Linked DNA regions of Homo sapiens. The protein of the gene in region 1 interacts with the protein of each later gene in a biochemical or structural test. Each region holds a gene or a part of one and is shown in the gene's direction. Other genes may lie near its edges. The genes, in order: PSMB7 and SERPINA10.

What was found.
Region 2: of the proteins of PSMB7 (region 1) and SERPINA10, one has a biochemical effect on the other in vitro, tested with the Homo sapiens proteins (one study listed by BioGRID).

The regions. Positions count from the first base shown.
Region 1 is NC_000009.12:124,352,965-124,356,958, reverse strand, and holds the end of PSMB7 (proteasome subunit beta type-7 precursor), read left to right. Parts: exon of another isoform or gene 1-43; coding exon 44-195; exon of another isoform or gene 196-3,249; coding exon 3,250-3,361; 3' UTR 3,362-3,494; downstream 3,495-3,994. UniProt on the Homo sapiens protein: Component of the 20S core proteasome complex involved in the proteolytic degradation of most intracellular proteins. This complex plays numerous essential roles within the cell by associating with different regulatory particles.
Region 2 is NC_000014.9:94,290,269-94,297,168, reverse strand, and holds the start of SERPINA10 (protein Z-dependent protease inhibitor precursor), read left to right. Parts: upstream 1-3,900; 5' UTR 3,901-3,980; exon of another isoform or gene 3,981-4,490; coding exon of another isoform or gene 4,491-4,560; intron 4,561-6,525; coding exon of another isoform or gene 6,526-6,575; coding exon 6,576-6,900. UniProt on the Homo sapiens protein: Inhibits activity of the coagulation protease factor Xa in the presence of PROZ, calcium and phospholipids. Also inhibits factor XIa in the absence of cofactors.

The DNA.
Region 1 (3,994 bases):
CTAGTTTGGCCGGGGACATTATTGCCGCCGTTCTGTTTCTCAGGAGGAGGAAGCCAAGAATCTGGTGAGCGAAGCCATCGCAGCTGGCATCTTCAACGACCTGGGCTCCGGAAGCAACATTGACCTCTGCGTCATCAGCAAGAACAAGCTGGATTTTCTCCGCCCATACACAGTGCCCAACAAGAAGGGGACCAGGTGAGTGAAGGAGACGAAGTTCTTCCTGGGTCCCCTGGCGTCGTGGCCACCCTTGGTATCTCCATGGCATCTGGATGGAGTTTTCCTGGTTCTTTCCACATTAAGTACATCCAGTGTTCCCAAATCAACCTCCCACACAGACCTTCGGCTTGTTACTTGCTTTATGACAGTGGGCTGCTGTCAGGTGTAGGAAAGTGATTTAATTTGATGGGAGAGGTGGAGGGTGGCCCAGGAAAGAGCCCTAGGCTGGGAGGTGGGGCCGGAGAGGTTTGGATCATCTGCTGTCCTTTCTCAAGTGTCTTAAAGAATCCCCTGATTTCTGGGAGAAGGTGCATTTTTCAGGGCAGCCCCAGCACTTTCCCTCAGAGTGCCCCGAGATTCCTAACTGGGTGTAAGTCAGCAATGCTAACAGCCTCCCAGAGGTGGCCTTGGGAGCTAGTGTGTGTGTGCTGTGCTACAGGGAGTTGTGCCATTGAGCCTGAGCCTACATGCCGAGTGGGCCCCTCGGCTCAGTGGTGCAGCGCAGACTCAGAGCAGTGGGAGAAGGTTCTAGTTGATTTGCTGAGCAGAACTGGGAGGTTTCCAAACCTGGTGGCTAGCATGTGTCAGAGGAGCAGCTCGTTTGCAGTGTCTCGTGATTGTCCGGCTGCTTGACCATCCTGTGGCTCCTGACCTCTTCTGGGAGCCCGGGCAGGTCAGGATGGGCTCCCTGAGTGCTGCTTCCAGCTGCAGCATCTGGGTGCAGCACAGGGCATTTATAAACTACGGCTCCCACTCAGCTCCACGGTAGCCCCGAGGAAGTGAGCACCACCTTCTGCAGGCTTGCTTCCATCTCCCACTGCACACACAACTCCACATCAGGAGTAATTCACAAGGAAGGAATGGAACGTTCAGAACCAGCAGGTATTCACTGTGGGCTGCACTCAACCTTGCGGAAGCTCAGTGGGCTCCTGATGGGGTGGGGCAGCACGGGGCCAGAGAACGCTGGCACTGGGGTTGGGGAGTGTTGGTGGCTGGCTTGGTGGCTTCCAGCAAATCAGTCTGTCTTGGAAATGGAGCTAAACCAGATGACCTCTAATGAGCCCACGAAGTCCCTCGGGCCTTTAGCAGGAAGGCAAGCCACCTTTCAGGCCCAGAGCTGTGTTGGGGAACCGGGCTTTGCCGAGCTCCAGGTAGGCAGGAGCCAAGTACTCCATGTAGCCTGCTTCGCTGGTTATTTTGCAAGATGCGTGATTTGAGCAAGTCCATGGTGAAGCGGTGATGGGGTAGGGAATGGTTACACCATTCAGGCTGGCCAGGGTCCTGGGCGAGGACTCTGAAAGCCACGTCTGGGCCAGTGAGAAGTGGTTGCCTAGGGAACCTGTGCTGAGCGCAGGAGTCCTCATCCACAGGGAGTGCAGCAGTGGCACATCCTACTTCCTGGGACATGGGCTGCTCCACTTGTAAACAGAGGCTCTAAACACCCAAGAACAAAAGAAAACCGCCTTGCGGCTGCTTGGGAAGAATCAGCAAGGCGACCCAGAAGCTGCTGGGCGTGTGGTGGGTGTGCAGTAACCTGCAGGGAGCCTGCTCCCCATCGGTGTCCTGGGGCCAAGGGCAGCAAGTGTCCAAGCTCCCTGGACTCTGTTGTCTTCTTTGCCAGTGACTGAAGATGGGGGCACTGCCTGAGTTAGGGGAGCCCTTCCCAGGGTGGATGCTAGGGTGCGGGCAGGGCGATAGGCCTGAGGAAGCATCCCGTGCCATGCGCCAGTGGGCCTTGCCTGGCAAGTCCCTGCTGCCTGTCTGCCCGCAGCCCTCCAGCACACGGTCTTGCAGTCCACTGGCACGTAAGGCGGAAGCTCTGAATGCATGCCGCAAAAATCGGGCACTGTCACCACAGTGGTGAGGAGGCTCTTGTGTGTCCAAGCCTCCCGGAGACACTGAGGGGTGGTTCAGAGGAGTCAGGCACACAGAGGCCACGTGGGACTTTGGCTCTAAGACTGCACGCTGCCACCAAGGTTCCAGCGTGTGAGGGATGAGGGGCATCCTCAAACTGATGGGGTGGGGACACATTGTTCAAAGGTACTTTTGCTTGGATTCTTTAAGAGGGTGGGGGTCGGGGGAGGCTTGGCAGCATAAAGGCAGGCCGCTCTGGGCTGACCGTGCTCCTGACCTGGATGCAGAACTGTGGAAGTTGCCCTCCTTGTTCTGCTTCCTGCTCCCTCTTTTAGCCCGTGTGTCCAGGGGAGAGGATGGGTGTTCCGGGAGCACAAGGCCATGGCACAGCCAGCAGCCTTCTGGCAGTTCCTGAAGGACAGCAAGTTTGACAGAGATATTACCCCAGCTGGGGCTAGAGCAGAGGAACAGTTGGTTGTGTGCTGCCATTTGACAGTATCCTAATTCCTGACCCACTGTGAGCATTAACAGCCCAAATACATATCTTCTAGACAGTCTGGTGCTCAAAGAAACCTCTGCCAGATTCACTCCAGGAAGAAGGTGTTGGGTGTGTCCTAGTGGGGACCCACTGTGTCCCTGAAAGGGACAGTTAACTTTTCTTGAGACTTGAGAGTGGTCTGAAATGACAAGCCCAGAGTCTGGCTGCACATTTTTTTTACACTGTTTATGCTTCCAGATGTTTGTGCAGTGTCTAAGGTAACAGTTAAGTCATTCTTGTTGCTGCACGGAAGAGCAATCATGCCCTTCTCTTGTGTAATGATGGGATTTGCTTCCTGCTGTCCCTGAACAGTATTGTAGGGAGGTTGAAGATTGATGTCAAGGGACCAAGTGCTTCCCAGCACTTGTGGGGATGGTGGGGTGGGGGGAGAGTCACGTGTCCACCAAGGGCCAGGTGCCGTGTTCACTAATGACACTCTTTGCCTCCCAGGCACCCCCATTTTGCAGCACTTGAGAACTGAGGAAGTTGAATCCCCCAAGATCACAGAGCTGGGATCGGGAGAGCCAAGATTCCAGTCCAGCCTGCTCACTGCGTTGCCTGAATATTTATTTTCACTGTCTTCTGCCCTCTGGCACCTTGAGGAGAATCCTAACTCTGTGCTTTTGTTTTTCTCTTACTAGGCTTGGCCGGTACAGGTGTGAGAAAGGGACTACTGCAGTCCTCACTGAGAAAATCACTCCTCTGGAGATTGAGGTGCTGGAAGAAACAGTCCAAACAATGGACACTTCCTGAATGGCATCAGTGGGTGGCTGGCCGCGGTTCTGGAAGGTGGTGAGCATTGAGGCCCAGTAAGACACTCATGTGGCTAGTGTTTGCCGAATGAAACTCAACTCAATAAAAAACAAAAACCAAATTGGGCAGCTGAGGTCTGGGCACTGTGTGGTGTTTTTGGGGGCAGTAGGGGGCTGCTAAGGCCATTGGCCTGGCCCTTCAGGGTGCTGATCCTCCTTGAGCACTGGCCTAGGCTCAGAGGAGAGCGTAGGAGCCATGCGCCCCTCCTGAGGACAGATAGGTTCTGTCTGCTGTCAGAAGTCAGAGTGGACTCCCTTGAGGCTTCAGGTGACCATCGATACCTACCCTTTTTGCTGGCTGAATTTGTTTGGGGTGGCCTCAGGTTTGGTTTGGTTTTGAAATGGGGTGATAAGTGCAGCACACCCTCCACCTCAGCAGCCAAGTAGGAAAAAAATGGCAAAGCCAAAGCTGTGTTCTCAAGCCCAGCTCAGTTCTGAGAACCAAGAGAAGGTGAGCAGGTGCACCGCCAGAGCTGTGTGAAGGTGGGTGGACCTCACTTTGGCCGGTTTCACAGAAATAAAAGGAATGTTTTGGGGTTACGGTTTTGTAATAAGTAGGACATGATCATTTCAC
Region 2 (6,900 bases), on another chromosome or scaffold:
CCATAACACAATAGAAAGATGTCTTTAAAGTTCAAGGCAGGAGGGATGTCTGGAAATCAGCGAGAAATTTGCACCTGTGTGTGCATGTGCATATGTGTGTGTGTATGTTGCAAGGACTTGGAAAGCCCTTTTTTTCCTACCTCTGTACTACTGTGGGGGGAGGCTAAACTTGACTTCTTCCCATCTTAGTTCTTTTTTGGGATAGACTCCTGTAACAAAAGACAGACAAGAGAAAAATCAGCTTACAACATGGGCCATGCACTTCACACAGGAGAAACCTGCATGAAAAGTAACTCAAAATGGTGCCTTAGAACTCCACTTACCTTTAGTAAAGAGCAATAAATTAGCAGGAAAATCATGGATCGGGACAAGGGAAGTGGTTTTATGCTTCCAAGGGCAGGAAATCATGGAAGGTAAATATATGGGAGGAAACTAAAGGAATAAGGCTTGTTTGCATATTCCTCTGATGCCATCTCTGGGTTGATAAGAGTCTAGAGTCATTTCCAGTAAAGATGAATTTTTATCTGTCTTTAGGAAGAAAGGGGGAAAGATAGAGAAAACTATTTCTCCATTTGCTGTTTCTTAATTACCTTCAGTTCAAAAATAATTTTTATATCAGAAAGGCATATTTAGAGGTATGTTAGTTTATTTTCACACTGCTAATAAAGACATACCCAAGACTGGGTAATTTATAAAGAAAAAGAGGTTTAATGGACTCACCGTTCCACATGGTTGGAGAGGCCTCACAATCAAGGCAGGTCTTACATGGCAGCAGGCAAGAGGGAGAATGAGAGCCAAGCGAAAGGAATTTCCCCTTAAAAATCCCCTTATAAAACCATCAGATCTCGTGAGACTTACTCACTACCACAAGAACAGTATGGGGGAAACCACCTCTATGATTCAATGATCTCCCACTGGGTACCCCCCAACAACACGTGGGAATTATGGGAGCTACAATTCAAGATAAGATTTGGGTGGGGACACAGACAGACCATATCAAGGGGTAACATAGTCTGGTTTCCTTTACTACCCACCTACCCAAACACCCCCTTCATCTGATCCACACAAAGTAAACTCTTGCAGTTCTCTCACTGTTTCCTGGAGTCTGCTTTTGGTCTCATAGGACTGCCCTAACGCTTGTTTTTCAGACGTTTAACCCTGTAGGTCTCTGGACAAATTTGCTTTAGAAGCCCCTCGATGTCGCCCTGAAGAGTGGCTTTCAGAAGTTGTGCCTCCTGCCTGAGGGGAGTTCCAGGAAGGGTTCTGCATCGCCTATGAGTTTATCTGGATCACCAGAGGCCTTCCCGTCAGAGCTTTCCCAATCGTTTTTGGCCAAGGAGTGTGAGAAGCTAAAGTTCATAACAACTGGAAGTCAGACAGCCTGGTCTATTCTGCTTTAACTCTAGCAGGAAAGGCCTTCATGGTGGGGCCTGAATATCTTCCTTTATAAAATCAAAGCCTGGGGACAGGGTTACTTACTTCTGAGGTTCAATCTGGCTCTAAAATTATGCAACAAATGCCATTCCTTTAGCACTTCCTTCCTACCGGGCGAGATACTCAACTCCACAGGCACCACCTCAGTTCATCCTCTCAGAAGTCCTAACAGCTCAGCCTGGGGCACCCCATTTTACAGATTAGTAAACTGAGGCTAAGAGAGGTTAGGTAGCTTGTTCAGGGTCATGCTGCTGGTAAAAGAGCTCAGGCTACAGTGCTATGCATTGAGTTTTCTCACTTTCCCATCTAACTGGAGGGCTAAAGGTCAAAGAGTGGGCAGCTCCCTTGTTGGGAGCTGTACAGGAATAATGTCCTCCCTGAAGGAGGGGGACTTCTGAGCCACACCCTGGGGTCCAGGGCTCACAGCCTTAGGAGCAAAATCGTCCACCCCCTTCCTGGTTCCTCGGTGCTGCAGAGATATTCATAGGACAGAGTCTGAGTTCTGGCCACTTAACAGAGGAAGAAAGGCTGGCTCGGTGAGGTTAACTTACATCCCAGCAGCTAGGAACCGGGAGCAGAGGACCTCAGATTCACACCAGGGCAGGAGGCAATGGCCTGGCTGAAGCCTTCACAATCTTCCCAATATACTCCGCTGCCTTCCTTTATAAGGATCCATTTCTGAAACCCTGTGCCCTGGCCAGGCACGGTGGCTCACACCTGTAATTCCAGTACTTTGGGAGGCCAAGGCAGGAGGACCACGAGGTCAGGAGTTTGAGACCAGCCTGGCCAATATGGTGAAACCCCGTCTCTACTAAAAATAGAAAAATTAGCGTGGTGGCAGGCGCCTGTAATCCCAGCTACTCGGGAGGCTGAGGCAGGAGAACTGTTTGAACCTGGGAGGTGGAGGTCTCAGTGAGCTGAGACAGACAGTGCCTGGGTGACAGACAGAGACTCCGTCTCAAAAAAAAAAAAAAAAAGAAAGAAACCCTGTGCCCTAAGACCTGCACACTCGCTGGCTCCGCTCAGACATTTAGCAAAGCAGACACCTTCCCAGGCCTGGAGGAAACAGCCCCTGCTTTTTGGGAATCCACAAGCCCGCAGCTGCAGAGCTCGACCTGGATGGGCAGGCAAAGGCTGACTCCTGTGCGTGGTGTGAGTCCAGCCTGGCCCCTCTACACCCTCACTTTCACCTCTTAAAGAACTGCCTATTAACAGAGCAGGTACTGCCCAAAAGGAACACTCTGGAAACTTGTTGGGACACTTCTGCCTTTCACAAACGTTTGGGGGGAGTACTACTAGCATTTAAGGATTGAGGGTTAGCAATGCCAGACATACCAGAACACGCAGGGCAGTCTCCCATGATGAAGAGGCCGCCGGGTTCCCCAGGACTCACATGTCCACCTCAAGTTCACGTGGGATTATCTGAGCCTAGACTGTCAGTCCTGGGGCTGCTTTATTTCATATAAAAATATAATATTTATCCAAGGTTTTACTACACACTGCATTTTCTGTGAAGACAATGACCGTGTAAATCAGGGAAAGATCTATATTTTATTTTGTTTGAAACTTTACCAAGCATTATTTACCATTTCAAAAGCTCTATCCCTGGTAGTACCATTGGTTTTCTTGTTCACCGGCCAGCAGTGAGCAGCACACAAGCGACCTCCCGTGGGCTCCACATTGGACAGCCTCACTGCACCTGCCCAGGCCCTTAGGCCACAGCACTGCCATATTCAGGGACACATTATTCTCTTTTATTATGCCTCCATATTATCATTACAGCATTATCTTTTTTTTAATTTTGTGGGTAGATTATATTAGCTATACGTTTCACTTCAATGGTAGTAGTAAGGGGCACATAACAAAATATTTACTTATATATATTAAAAAAGAGAGTCTGAGAAGTCTGAAAAGTTTTGCCATAAACGGTCTCCACCAGCCTCAACTCTGAGTGCCCGAGGATTCAGTCTCAAGTCCAGCAACATTGTGAAGCAGGAAATTTACCTTGAAAGGAGCTATGTACTCTAAGTAGTGATTTACCTGTCTGCCTCCCCCACTGGATTGACCAGTTCCTTGGGGGCTGAGAGAACAGGTCCTGAACATTTCTGCTGTGCCCCCCAACCCACATCCTCATAGTGTCCAGTACCAGGCTGGGGACTCAGGAAGCATCCATGGGATCCCCCAGTGCCTTCTTTCTCGAGGTGTTCAGCACCTAGAACAGCTCAAGACAAATTCCCCACACCCCACCCAGACAGAGCTGAATCTTACTGGGGCGAAGCCTTGAGTTGCAAGGCAGAAGCTCTCGTGATGGGATTTGGGTCATATTCCGGGTTATAGGAGGAGCTGGGGAGTATGGGAAGCCTCCCACTTGGTCTTTGGTTTTCCAGAAACTCCACCATCACAAGCAGGATGTTAATCAGTAACCGTCCCACAGGGGATCATACTTTGGAATAGCAAATATTTGCTGAAGGTTCTGGGCTGCAAAGCTGAAGCTTTGGTTTCTGCTCTAAATGAAGGACTTTTCCAGGACCCAAGGCCACACACTGGTAAGAGGCAGTGGGTTACAGGAGACCTTCAATGAGTCTAATCAGGGAGGGACCGGGAAGGATGGTATCATCCCTGGGCGGGCTCCAACGTGAGGGCTGTGTGGCTGAGCAGTGCAAAGACCTCCATCCTACACTCCACAGGGACTGTACATACAGATTGGGAGCTGGAGTGGGGTAAGAGGCGAATTATAGACACAAGGGGCTCCTCTGCAGGAAGGAGGCCAAGGGAAAGAGGCTTGAAAGGCTTGATATTTCACCCACCACCACTCACTGCCGGAGTAAGCAGGTCTCCCCTTCCCAGGGCTGAGGGGAGGCAGGGATGTGTGCTGTCCCAGGGCTGAGAAGTGGCAGGTGAGCTGGTGATTCCTTACTGCCCAGGTTCTGTCTAGGAAGGTGCGTCCTCACCATGCTGGATGGTGTCCTAGTCCAGGAGCACCCCCTGAGCTCCTGGCCTAGACTCCAAAGGGTTGGGTAGATGAGCAAAGACTTTACAAAGACCTTAGGCGATATATGTCCAGGAGCACCCAGGAATTACTGGGCTACCACTGCAGACTGCAGGACAAGCTCCAAGAACAGGAAGGTAAGACTCAGCATTTGGAGGTGGTGACATCTAGTTGGCGTGCTGGGCTAATTTCCTGACCATTGTACAGGGAGAAGTAACCTTGAATTCAGGAGTATTCTGTGTGGTCTTAATGTAGAAAGTAGCACTAAATGATGCCACGTAATCGTTTTAGCTCAGGCTCCTCTAACAAAACACCACAGGCTGGGTGGCTCCAACAGCCATTGATTTTTCACAGTTTTGGAGGCTGAAAGTCCGAGTCAGGGTGCCAGCGTGGCCGGATTCTGGTAGGGCTGTCTTCTTGGCTTGCAGATGGCCACCTTCGCACCGTGTCCTCCCATGGAGAGGAGGTGCGGAGGGGGACTCTGCTCTCTTCTTATGACAGCACTAGTGCTATCACAGGGGCCTTGCCCTCACGACCTCATCTAAACCTAATCACCTCCCAAGCGCCCCAACTCTATTGCCATCACAATGGTGGTTCGGGCTTCAACTTATTAATTCTCAGGGGACACATTCAGTCCATAACAATAAAAGCGTGAAACTGGGCTGCGTTTACACTGAAAGAGCTATTTACCCAACGTTTACAATACTTGGGTGACCTGTTGAATGCAGGCTTGCCATTTAGAGTCAAAAAGAGCTTCCTCAACAGTGTCCTTTGGGAAACACAGTGGAAGTATTTCACTGCTTCTACAGGGGAGAGGGTAGTGCCGTTCAGACTGCAGAGTGAGGCCCTGAATTCCGGGGTGCCATTCAGCCCGAGCAAGGGGCAACATGCTGGGCCCTGGCGCTGGAGGCGGTTTTGTCCCAGGCATAGATAAGGACTCAGCCCCTGCATCAGGAAGAGGCCTGGCAGCACCGCCTGTCAATACATTTTGCCGCAGGTGACCTTGGTCAAGAATAAGGGTCTCTGCTGATGGGAACTACTGTGAGGCCGGCAGCATCCACCCTGCGCTCACTGGGCTGGGTGGCCTACCCCACCCAGACCCTCCCAGGGCAGTGGGCCCAGAGAGAGGATGAGGGAGGGCAGGTGTCCCAGGGGTTCTGCCCAGCCAGCCTCTGGGATCAGGCCTGCAGTGTGGCTGAACACCAGAACTGAGTTTGGACACAGCCAGGTGGCCCAGGCCAGTCCCAAGCCATGTATTTGGATGGAAAACATGGAAGTATTCAGGAGCCAGGCTCTGTGTCCAAGGATGTGGAGGGAGCCTAAAAGGCGACAGAGAAGGGGACAGCTAACGGTGAAGAAGTGTAGCTCCCACACTGCAGCCTAGGACAGTGAGAACCGGCATGCAGCCCAGGTGGCTGAGGGCTCTATGAAGCCACAGTGGAGGGAGCCCAGAAGTGGGTTGTATGAATTGCGGGGCCTCCTGCTACCCGGGAGCTGCAGCTATAGGAAGGAAGGAAGGAAGGAAGACCTCCAAGGAACTGTGTAGCAGAGGTGCAGTGCAAAGAGAATTTTGATAAAAAATCCAGGAAAGCTCCAATACTTTCCCCCTTCCTTGCCTAACGGGCATGCAGGCACTCCAATCCCCAGCCAAACAGGGCACTGGGCAAGGCCGGCCACCCATCTGGATGGGCAGCCTGACGACCAGATGGTCAGGGCAGTGAATGAAGCAGATCAAGGAAAGGTGTGTGAGGACCCCTGATTCCACCTGCTTGGACCCCCACCTTCTGTGCTGCCTCCTGCTCCCAGAGTGGACTCTCTTGCCCTGGCCCTCAGGGAGGAGACGGGATGAATGAAAACGGGGTCAGGACTGAGAGCTGCCTGCCGGCCTGGCAGGGAATGGGAACTGGAGGAGGTTTTGCTCTGTGAAATAATGTCCCCTCTTTGGGTGAGCAAATGTCACCCACACTTGCTCTAGGTCTCCCTGGGGCAGGGCTAACCTACTTGAGCCACAGGAAGGAGGCAGGGTCCCTGAAGAAGCTTTTACTATCCACAAAGACATTTTAGGAGGCATTAAAACCATCTCTATCCTCTCCTCTCCACAGGAAGTCTTGCAGCTGAAGGGAGGCACTCCTTGGCCTCCGCAGCCGATCACATGAAGGTGGTGCCAAGTCTCCTGCTCTCCGTCCTCCTGGCACAGGTGTGGCTGGTACCCGGCTTGGCCCCCAGTCCTCAGTCGCCAGAGACCCCAGCCCCTCAGAACCAGACCAGCAGGGTAGTGCAGGCTCCCAAGGAGGAAGAGGAAGATGAGCAGGAGGCCAGCGAGGAGAAGGCCAGTGAGGAAGAGAAAGCCTGGCTGATGGCCAGCAGGCAGCAGCTTGCCAAGGAGACTTCAAACTTCGGATTCAGCCTGCTGCGAAAGATCTCCATGAGGCACGATGGCAACATGGTCTTCTCTCCATTTGGCATGTCCTTGGCCA